3 linked regions of the Homo sapiens genome follow. The protein of the gene in region 3 purifies or fractionates together with the protein of the main gene of each other region. This does not show direct contact. Each region holds a gene or a part of one and is shown on either strand. Other genes may lie near its edges. The genes, in order: RAB11FIP5, MPST and ANXA4.

The links.
Region 1: the proteins of ANXA4 (region 3) and RAB11FIP5 fractionate together in Homo sapiens (co-fractionation; one large-scale study listed by BioGRID). This does not show direct contact.
Region 2: the proteins of ANXA4 (region 3) and MPST fractionate together in Homo sapiens (co-fractionation; one large-scale study listed by BioGRID). This does not show direct contact.

The regions. Positions count from the first base shown.
Region 1 is NC_000002.12:73,102,942-73,106,590, forward strand, and holds part of RAB11FIP5 (rab11 family-interacting protein 5), read right to left. Parts: intron 1-3,649. UniProt on the Homo sapiens protein: Rab effector involved in protein trafficking from apical recycling endosomes to the apical plasma membrane. Involved in insulin granule exocytosis. May regulate V-ATPase intracellular transport in response to extracellular acidosis.
Region 2 is NC_000022.11:37,022,675-37,026,323, reverse strand, and holds part of MPST (3-mercaptopyruvate sulfurtransferase), read right to left. Parts: intron 2,573-3,649; exon of another isoform or gene 2,397-2,572; intron 2,133-2,396; coding exon 1,514-2,132; intron 1-1,513. UniProt on the Homo sapiens protein: Transfer of a sulfur ion to cyanide or to other thiol compounds. Also has weak rhodanese activity. Detoxifies cyanide and is required for thiosulfate biosynthesis. Acts as an antioxidant.
Region 3 is NC_000002.12:69,804,497-69,808,145, forward strand, and holds part of ANXA4 (annexin A4), read left to right. Parts: intron 1-36; coding exon 37-131; intron 132-1,888; coding exon 1,889-2,002; intron 2,003-3,409; coding exon 3,410-3,500; intron 3,501-3,649. UniProt on the Homo sapiens protein: Calcium/phospholipid-binding protein which promotes membrane fusion and is involved in exocytosis.

The sequences.
Region 1 (3,649 bases), 3.3 Mb from region 3:
CTATTATATTCAGAGTATGGTGACACAGTTGGAAAACCCTTTTCCCTAGAGCCTCCTCCACCCTGATGCCTCCTCTCCTCTCCAAGTGCCCACCACAGCAGCCTGCCTCACACACTGGCACACAGGAGCTGTGTGGGCCTCAAGCCAACCCCTGCTGTCTCCCCGCATCCACCGCCTACCCCATCTTTTGATTTGGTATCTACAGTAAAACTGCAAGCCAGACATAATTGCAGGACAGGATACAGCCTCTTATCAGGCCAGAAGATGATTCTTATCACCTCCTCTGGCACCATGCCTGGCACCAGCAACCTTTGGAGGGAGCCCAGGTCCTCATTCATGAGTTCCCCCTGCCTCTGTGGGGACAGCTCACTCATCCCTCCTCAGACCCCAGCCAGGTCCAGCCTCCCTCCCTCCTGGGCACAAGCACTTTTAATCCTCATCCTAATGCTGTAGGCTCCAAAGGTCTGTCACTGTCAGCTCACCCAGCACAAGGAAAAGCTGCAAAAATGGCTGGAGACAAGTCAAACCACAGAGAGCAACAGAAAAGATGTAGGGTTGATAGCACAGTGTAGGGAGAAAAGCATCAGGCTTAGACATCAGAAATCTGGCTGCCACTAAAGAGTTGTGTGACCTTGGACAGGTCATTCCACCTCCTGAGACCCCAGTCTCCATATTCGCAAAAATGGTGATCCCCCTGTCTGCCCTCAGGGAAGAATGAAATGAGGTGATACTGGGAAGGCACCCTTAAAAGTAGGCCAAACCACACAGAAAGATGTGGGTTTATTGTCTATCAAAGGCCTTTTACAGGCCATCATCAGCCCCATATAAGTGAGGTGGCCCAGGACCAAAAAGCAACAACCCTGCCCAGGAGGAAGGAGAGAACCCGCAAGATGACCTCTCTCAGGGGATCTCTGGCAGGTGGAAAAATAAAGAAATTCCACTTAACCCATCCCCCTCCCCAGTGTGCTCCTAACCCCATATTCACCCTGACCAGGAGACTCAGGTTGAGGAAGACAAAACCAAGTGGCGATGGTCCCCTCTGCCAAGGTCTCAGTTCAGACCCCACAACAGGGGGAAACAAACAATAACTTCCCTGCCAGGCTCATGGGAAGTACAGAACTGTGTGGTGAGAACGTTGCATTTGGGAACAAGGAGGGAGGGAAGAAAAAACACAACGCATTTGCCTTTAAATGCAGAAAACACCTTTGGAAGGTTACACAAGAACTGGTAATGTTGGATGTCTCTGAAGAGAGGAGCTAGGTGACTTAAGGTGGGTCAAGGGAAATTTTTTTCATTATGTGCCCTTCTGTACCTTTAGAATTTGGACCAGGTGAACTACTCAAAAGTAAATAGGGGCCAGGTGTGGTGGCTCACACCTGTAATCCCAGCACTTTGGGAGGCTGAGGCAGGCAGATCACTTGAGGTCAGGAGTTCGAGACCAGCCTGGCCAACATGGTCTCTACTAAAAATACAAAAATTAGCTGGGCGTGGTGGCACGCACCTGTAGTCCCAGCTGCTCGGTAGGCTGAGGCAGGAGAATCACTTGAACCTGGGAGGCGGAGGCTGTAGTGAGCCAAGATCACACCATTGCACTCCAGCCTGGGCAACACAGCAAGACTCTGTCTCAAAAAACAAAACAAAACAAAACAAAACTAAATAGGAAGTAAAGAAAGTCCTGCTGTTTTGCTGAGAGTGGCACACAGGGAACTAAGCTTGGCTCCCCTCACTCCCTCTCCTGGCCCAGTCCCACCACACTCACAGTTTCCCTGCCTCCAACTCACCCTGCCTCTAATCAGGTCTCACCTGTTATTCAAGGCCTCACCTCTCCCAAGAAGCCCACCCTGATCACTCCAACTGGTGAGCTCCCTCTTCTCCTGACCCCCTCATTCTCTCACGCTTTTTATATGCTGCTTTGTAGAGGAATTGTCCTTGCTGCGTTAGGCTTATCTCAAACATATTTTAGCCCTTCTGGAGAAAGGGCTATCCACTTTATTTCCCTGGTTTCCCCCACAGCACTGACCTAGGCACAGTGGTTACAATGGTTGTCCAGTAATTGCTTCCTGGATGTTGTGAAACAGAAGGGAAAAAATAGCAAATGACTGTATTGCTGCAGGAGGAAGAACAGGATGGCTTGGAGTGTTCTGTCACAGTAAAACCAGCATGTGACGTCTTGGGAAGGATTACGGAGTCTGGTATGTGCTGATGCCCCCAAGCCCTGCTTGAAAGGAGCAAATCTCCCCAGGGTGGAAAGTGCCCTGGTGGAAAGTGAGGCTGACCTTCTCAGGCCTCACTCCACTCCTTTTTTTATTTTTATTTTTTGAGACAGGATCTTGCTCTGTCACCCAGGCTGGAGTGCAGTGGGGCAATCATTGCTAATCGCAGCCTTGAACTCCCGGGCTCAAGTGATCCTCCCACCTCAGCCTCCTGAGTAGCTGGGACTACTGGTGTGCACCACCATGCCCAGCTAATTTTTTGTATTTTTGTAGAAATGGAGTCTTGCTATGTTGCCTAGGTTGCTCTTGAACTCTTGGCCTCCAGTGATCCTCCTGACGCGGCCTCCCAAAGTGCTGGGATTACAGGCATGAGCCACCACACCCAGCCCTCACTCCACTCCCGAGAGGTATCTGGTGGCAGTGACTCCCTCCCAAAGTATGAGACAACATCCCCCAGCCTCTGGGACAGACATAAGGCTAGAGCTGCAGACCAAATGTGCTTATCCCAATAAACCAAGGACTCACCCAGGAGAAGCAGGTCATGCCTACAGAGCACCAGATTAACCCCCGAGATCCATGTCAAGGAGAAGAGAGGAAGCCTTGGCAGGCAGCAGCTGAGCACCTGGCCCTGTGCAGAGCAGGGTCATGGAAGACATGGGGGAAGACTGAGGTGGGCAGTGTGGTGTGGTGGCCAAGAGCATAGACTGGGAAGCCAGACTGCCTGGGTTCACATCCTGACTTTGTGCCATGTGCTGTGGTCAAGTCCAGTGACTCATGCCTATAATCTCAGCACTTTGGGAAGCTGAGGCAAGAGGATCACTTGAGAGTTCATGGCTGCAGTGAGCTATGATGGCACCACTGCATGCCAGCCTCAGTGATGGAGCCAGACCCTGACCCCACCCCCTCAAAAAAAAGAAAGAAAAAGCAAAGTCACTTTACCTCTCCGTGCCAAGGTTTCCTCAGCTGTTAAACAGCACCTACACCTCAAGGGCTTGCTGTGGACAAATGGAAGTCCAGACCTTAAGACAGTGCCAGCACCCAGATAGGCCTTCATCAGCAATGCACTAGACCAACGAGGCAATGAAAATAATGCACCAAAACAGGTGCCACATGCTCCAGATGTGGGGATTCAGAGAAGGCTGGGGAGGCAGATGGGTTCCATGATGGCCGACAGGTCTCTGGTGTATGTCCCCTCCTCACAGAGGAGGAGACCACAGCCAGCGCCAGTGGCTCTGTCTGCTCCGAACATCTCCAGGGCTCCCTGTCTAGGCCCCAAAACACAGCACTTGGCTATAGGGCTTCCTCCAAATGTAGGGAGATATCCAGGCTTCCCCCCCTTTGGAATCTCTCCCCCACCAGTGGCCCACTCTTGGCCTTTCAGGCCTCTAGAACTGCCTTTGGATTGGACTACCCTTCCAGGTCAGCAGAGAAGCCCA
Region 2 (3,649 bases), on a different chromosome or scaffold from region 3:
GCCCCTATCATGTCTTTATGCTCTGTGTTACTGCTCCCATTCTACATAGGCAGAAGCTGCAGTTCAGAGACATTAGATGACCCGTCGTGTGTCACAAAGCCCATGTAAATGTGGCAGGGATCTGAACCCCAGTCTGGCACCACCAGCTAGCTCCCCTGTGTTGCTCATTCCCCTGGGGCTGAGATGGAGAACCCAACAGGATTAAGGTGGTGCTCTCATTAGGCTGAACCACATGAAACTGACACCTGTGTAGGTTCAAAAATGGTTGGATATCAGCTGTTTCCTATGGTTCCGGTAACACCAACATTGCTTTGCAGGATTCCATGCAACAGGGACCTTCTGTATTCACCAAACCTCTCTGGAACATCGACTCTGTGCCAGGTACTGAGCTAATCTTCAGGATGCATGAAGAGCAGGGACAGTCCTTGCCCTCAGGCCATCCAAAACAATGCTGGCCCATGGTGAGCCCAAGCGGCTCCAAACCCAATCTGTAGCCATGGGAATGCTCTTCAGAGAGCTCTCTAGGGGCAGTGGTCAGTTTCTTGCACTCTTGAAGGCACAAGAGAAAGGGCTGGGGAGTTCCTGGTTGCTCACGGCTGTTAAGTGCGCAGGCTGCCGAGTCTGAATCCCGGCTGGGTTGTTTCTTGAGACCTTGGGCCAGGTTCCATTTCCTCCTCTGTGCAATGACAGTATCTACTTACACGGGATGTTTGAAAGACTCACACTAGCGTGACCACTGACCAGCCTGCTTTGTGGGGACTCCTCCTCGCATTATACAGAGCTTACCCACAGGCTTCTTGCCTGAGGAAATCCAGCCCACAGGCAGAAGGCTCTGCCCTACCCACTTCTGTTTAATCCCCCTTCCACCCTCAGTTCTCCAAGCTTTGGTCCCTGGAAGAGACTTTCCTTTATGCAGCCCCCGACTCTGCCTTCATTCCACCATCCTCAGGGGCATGGGTAGCCCTGATCAGGACCATCCCTCTGGGTTTTTCTCTCATACTGGGGCCTGCCCCCCAACATTCCACAGTGACCCCCCACACCTCTAGTGTTGGATTGAGAGCTGTTTGGGCAACCAGGGTTCCCAATGAGCTAGGGAGAGTCACTGCCCAAAGCACAGGAGGGGAAGGGCCAGTATTATGGTTCTGCTTAACAGACAAAGTCACCGAGGCAAGTGGAAGTCAAATCTCCTTCCCCACCTCATGCAGTGGCCTTTAAAGGCAAGGTCAGGCTGAGCGGGGAGGGTCACCTGAGCCCAGGAGGTTGAGGCTGCAGTGAGCCATGATTGTGCCACTGCACTCCAGCCTGGGCGGTAGAGCCAGACCCTGTGAAAAGAAGGCAAGGGTAGGGAAAAGGGGGAAAGGAGGGAAGGGAAAGGGAAGGAAAGGAAAGAAAAAAGGAAAGGAAATGAAAGCAAGATAAATTAAAAAAATAAAAGAAAGGTCAAGTCCAGGGCACTGCTCAGGGCGTAGAGGCCGCGCCCCCGACGACCTCCTGCCCCCTTCCCCCGCGTTACCGTCTCGGGGCTCGGGCTCGGTGCCGCGGAACCTGCCAGTGGCTCGGGAGTCCACCACCTGGAAGCGCCGGGATTCCAGGTTCTCCTTGATGTCCTCGTAGGTCTTGATGAAGGCGGGGTCGAGCTGAGCGCGGAACTCGGCGGGAGCAGGTTGGCTCTTGCCGGAGCTGAGCGGGAGGTTCTGGCGCAGCCAGTGGCGGAGGCCGCCATCAAGCAGTGACACGGCGTGGTGGCCGAAGGCGCGGAACATCCACCAGACGCGCGGGGCGGAGTAGAGGCCCTGGTCGCTGGCGTCGTAGATCACGACGTGGGTGGCCGCGCCCACGCCCAGGCGGCCTGCGTACTCCGCGAAATGCTCGGCCCCGGGCAGCATGTGGTCGTAGGGCGAGGTGCGGTCGCTGCACTGGTCGATGTCGAAGAAAGCGGCGCCCGGGATGTGGCGCTCCTCGAACTCGCGTCGCGCGTCGCGCCCCAGCTTCGGCAGGTACCAGGAGGCGTCCAGCAGCTGCAGAGGCTGCCCAGCGCGCGGGGCCCGCAGCGCCTCCGCCACCCATTGCGCCGACACCAGCGCGCGGCAGAGCTGCGGCGAAGCCATGGCGGCGACACTCGGGCTGCGGGCCTGGGCGACAGGGAGGATGTCAGAAGGGAAGCAGGGAGAGGCCGCTGTTGGGGCTAGGGCTGGGGCTGGAGCATGGGCGAGGGCCGGCGGGGGAGGTGCGGCCCGTGCAGGGCAGAGTCCAGGGAACGCAGAAACCAGTGGTGGTGAACCCGGGCACAAAGGTGGGTAGCCAGGGGCCTCCCTCTGCCAGGCCTCATATAAACACAAGCTCCGAGTGACCCAATGACCATGACCTCCCGGAGAGCCCCAGGCCACGCCCCTCACCTCCACTTGCTGGGCAGGAGGGTGGGTGGAGGTATCCTAGGGCAAGGCCCTGCTGGCTTCAAGGCACAAACAGGGGCAAAGTCTCCACCCCTCCCTAAGATGCAGCTCGGCTTTATTTGCAACCAAGTCCCAGACGGAAGTCATTCATTCACTCATCAAGCATTTATATTGGCGACCTAATAGGAACAGTAGCTGGAATTTACTGAGTCCTTGCTGGGTACCACTGAATCCTAACAATATCCTAGAACAATGCCTGACACAGTAGACTCTCCAGTATGTGTTGAATGAGTGATCTTAAGAGGCCTGGTATATTATTGTCACCGTTTCAAGGAGGACACTCAGGCTCACAGAAGTGCACTAACCTGGCCTGGTGCGGTGGCTCACGCTTGTAATCCCAGCACTTTGGGAGGCCCAGGCAGGTGGATCACCTGAGGTCAGAAGTTTGAAACCAGTCTGGCCAACATGGTGAAACCCCGTCTCTACCAAAAATACAAAAAATTAGCCGGGCTTAGTGGAGGGCACCTGTAATCCCAGCTACTCGGGAGGCTGAGGCAGGAGAACTGCTTGAACCCAGGAGGCGGAGGTTGCAGTGAGCCGAGATCGTGCCATTGCAATCCAGCCTGGGGAACAAGAGCAAAACTCTGTCTCAAAAACAAAAAACAAACAAGAAAAAGTGCACTAGCCTGACCCGGCGGTGCCAGGCTTCTCACTAGGCAGTCAGTCTGGCACCAGAATCCGGACTTCTCAGACACACACTCTGTGCAGGCTCCAGGAGTCTGGCGAGGCCAGGTTTTGCCTGTCCAGCCTGGGCTCTCTCTGGCCCTTCTAGCAGCAGCAACAGTGACTTCGCACCTCCCTCCCTCTCCTCTCTATCTTTCCTGCATACCAGAGACAGTGCACCAGCTCGCCAGCCCACTATGCCAGGCCAGCCCACAGCCTTCCTGGGTGTAAACTTCCCAAACACTTTAAGCCCTTTGTGCTGGGAAGCCACCGTTGTGCAGGTGAGAGGAAAGGGCCCCTTCTGCCAGGCAGAGGCTGAGCCCCCACCAGGGCACATGGCTGGGTGTGTGGAGTATGGGCTGCAGATCAGCCCTCACTTATCCCCTGTGTGAGGCCCAACCTTGACACCCACTGCATGCAGTCCTGCCAGCGAAATGAAGGGGGCAGGTAGAGAACAACATCTGTGGACCGAGTGCCTCTGTGGGCCAGGTCACATGCTAGGCACCGCAGCCTTGGGCGGGTATTAGGACGCC
Region 3 (3,649 bases):
AATCACACTTACCTGCTGTCTCCCTTCTTCCCCCAGGCACCGATGAAGACGCCATTATTAGCGTCCTTGCCTACCGCAACACCGCCCAGCGCCAGGAGATCAGGACAGCCTACAAGAGCACCATCGGCAGGGTAGGCCACAGTCTTTCCTGCTCTGTCTGGCTGACTTCGCAGCAACAGGAAGCAGGGCCTCTTCCTGATCTAGGTTCCCGAAGTGACCTTGTGTTTTAAAAGATCGATCCTTTGTCTTGTTTAAAGATGTTCTTGAGGCCAGGTGTGGTGGGTCACACCTGTAATCCCAGCACTTTGGGAGACCGAGGTGGGTGGATCACTTGAGGCCAGGAGTTTGAGACCAACCTGGCCAACATGGTGAAACCCCATCTCTCCTTAAAAAATACAAAAATTAGCCGGGCATGGTGCTGAGCACCTGTAATCCTAGCTACTTTGTAGGTTGAGGCAGGAGAATTGCTTGAACCAGGAGGTGGAGGTTGCAGTGAGCCAAGATCATGCCACTTCACTCCAGCCTGGGCAACAGAGACAGACTCCATCTCAAAAAAAAAAAAAAAAAAAAAAAAAAGAATAGCGATTCAGCTCCTTCTTCGTCAATTGATCTTAAACAAGTTCTTAAACTCTCTGACCCATTCCAGGAGGAAATGTGAATAAACATCTTTAGAATTTGGTCCATTTTCCAAATAATTATATTTGGAAACTATATCTCAGGAATTGAGCCTTAAGAAATAGTCATGAATGATCACAAAGATACAACTAAATGCCTTATGTATATAACAGTAGAAAAATAGAAACAGGTGACTAGTTAAAGAAATTAGGCTGGGTGTGGTGGCTCACACCTGTAATCCTAGCACTTTGGGAGGCCGAGGCGAGTGGATCACTTGAGGTCAGGAGTTCGAGACCAGCCTGACCAACATGGTGAAACCCCGTCTCTACTAAAAATACAAAAAAATTAGCTGGGCATGGTGGTGGGCACCTGTAATCCCAGCTACTTGGGAGACTGAGGCAGGAGAATCGCTTGAATCCAGGAGGCGGAGTCTGCAGTGAGTCAAGATCGTGCCACTGCGCTCCAGCCTAGGCAACAGAGCAAGACTCCATCTAAAAAAAAAAAAAAAAGAAATTATGTTGCACCTATCTATAGAAATCTCCACAGCTGCTAAAAAGGTTATCAGTGAATATTGACTTGGAAGTATATTCAAGACATATTGTTAAGTAGGCAAATACATTTACATCGGTGTCTACAAACATATTCACCTCAAAGTTCCTTTACCTCTTAAATTTTTTAGGACTTTTGGTTTTGTGGGTTATATCTTTTGATATTTGCCCTATTAGAAACTAAAACTGAGGGCATTTAAAAATAGATATTTGTTAACTTAGTAAAAATAATAAGTATATTGTATGTTACTGTAAATAACATTTTAATGAAAAATAGCTATATATCCCAAAACGAAAAAACATTTAGTGAGAAGATTGGCATTGTTTTACATTTTGCAGATCTCTTTAATGTCTGGCTTAATGGAAGACAGATGGCTTCTCATATCTATTTCTACTTCAATTTGTTATGATATGTGGTTTTGGTTGGGGTATATGAAGAAAATCTGGCTTGTACAGATATGTACTTGAAAATGGGGGGAGTATTTGAACAGACAGTTGTTGATGCACAGACAATGTCAAATAGCCTTAGGAAAACCCCACTGTATGCTTGTGGAAGAATGACAGTGAAAAGGCAAATAACATCTGAGTGTTATTCTGAGGATAGTTTTGACTTGCAGGCCCCTTGAAAGGGTCTTGGAGACCCCAGACATCCCTGGACCACACCTGGAGAGTAGCTGGTCTAATTTGCTATAGCAGTTAAGCGGAGCTACTTTCTTGCATTGCAGGACTTGATAGACGACCTGAAGTCAGAACTGAGTGGCAACTTCGAGCAGGTGATTGTGGGGATGATGACGCCCACGGTGCTGTATGACGTGCAAGAGCTGCGAAGGGCCATGAAGGTCTGTGCTCTTCCTCTCGTGCTCTTGGTGCTGTTGGTGCAAACGCTGATGTGCTTTCTTAAGAAACTGTCACCCAATAAGAAAGACATGGAAGCAACCTAAACGCCCATCAATGGTAGACTGGATAAAGAAAATGTGGTACATGTACACCATGGAATAGCTGTAAAAAGGAACAAGATCATGTCCTCTGGAGGAACATGGATGGAGCTGGAGGTCATTGTCCTTAGCAAACTAAGGCAGGAACAGAAAATCAAATACCATATGTTTTCACTTACAAGTGGGAGCTAAATGATGAAAACACATGGACACATAGAGGGGAACAACACACACTGGGGCCTGTTGGAGGATGGAGGGTGGGAGGAGGGAGAGGATCAGGAAAAATAACTAATGGGTACTAGGCTTAATACCTGGGTAATGAAATAATCTGTACAACAAACCCCCATGACACAAGTTTATCTATATAACAAACCTGCACATGTACCCCTGCACTTAAAGTAAAAGTTAAATTTTTTTAAAAAAGAAAGAAACTATGACCAAGGCCTTCTGAGAGTAGCAGGTGTAAAGTATAGGAGATTTTCCTTCATTTACGACAACTTGAAAACATCATTACTTTACATTATACCAATTATAATTTAAAAGTTCTTTTCCAAAAAGTTAGGGAATCATTTGCTCCTTCCTGTGGCTCAATGGGGAGTGATTATAATTGTCGCTTTTAGTACAGCTCTAGAGACTTTTAGCTATCTCTAGACAGCTAACTACTTTTGAGATATGTAACTTTATGACTGACACTTTAGGGGCCTCCAGGTCTACTATAGGCTTACTTCTGGCAAAAGAGTTCCTGGCTTCCCTAGATGACGTACCCACTGTGCCCTAGCCTGGTCTGCCAAATTTTAATGACCAAGTATGTAATGCAAATATAAATGGTCCCCACCTTAGGATGGTTCTACTTAAAAATTTTCAGTGTATTGTACTCCTCATCATAAGTCGAGGAGTACAATTATCCTCCTCAACCATGTCAATAAATACTCAGACTTGTGGAAGGTTCTGGGCCAGGCTCTGGGAAAGCAAAGAGGTGACAAAGTCTTTGCCAGAAAATTCTGCCCTTCAGAGGAAGAGAGCAGAAGAGGTCAAGGAAAAATTAAGTCCCCAGAGGGCAGAAACCATACCTACCCGGGCACAGTAACGAACACATAATAAACAGCCTAGAAATGTTTGTTATTACTCATAATTGTTACGGCAAACACTTTGGGTTTCGGGTGGGACAATAAAAGTGAACAAACCCTGTTGTTAGAACGCAGTGGATTGTCTTTATTCTCTGCAGATTCATGACAGATGTATTCCTTCTGTGTCTGGGCCTCAGCTTTGTAAACTGGCTCATATAGCCCTGTCCTCTGGTTTCTTGTTTAGGGAGCCGGCACTGATGAGGGCTGCCTAATTGAGATCCTGGCCTCCCGGACCCCTGAGGAGATCCGGCGCATAAGCCAAACCTACCAGCAGCGTACGTGACATCCGCAGTGGCCCTGGCTGAGGTTTCGCTGTGATTAGAGAATGAGGGTAGCAGCGGGTTGTTGTTTGCTGATTAGACTTTTCACAGAACGCTGAGCATGAGGGATCCTCGGTGCCAAGCTCTGCTTCGAGGGAGATCCC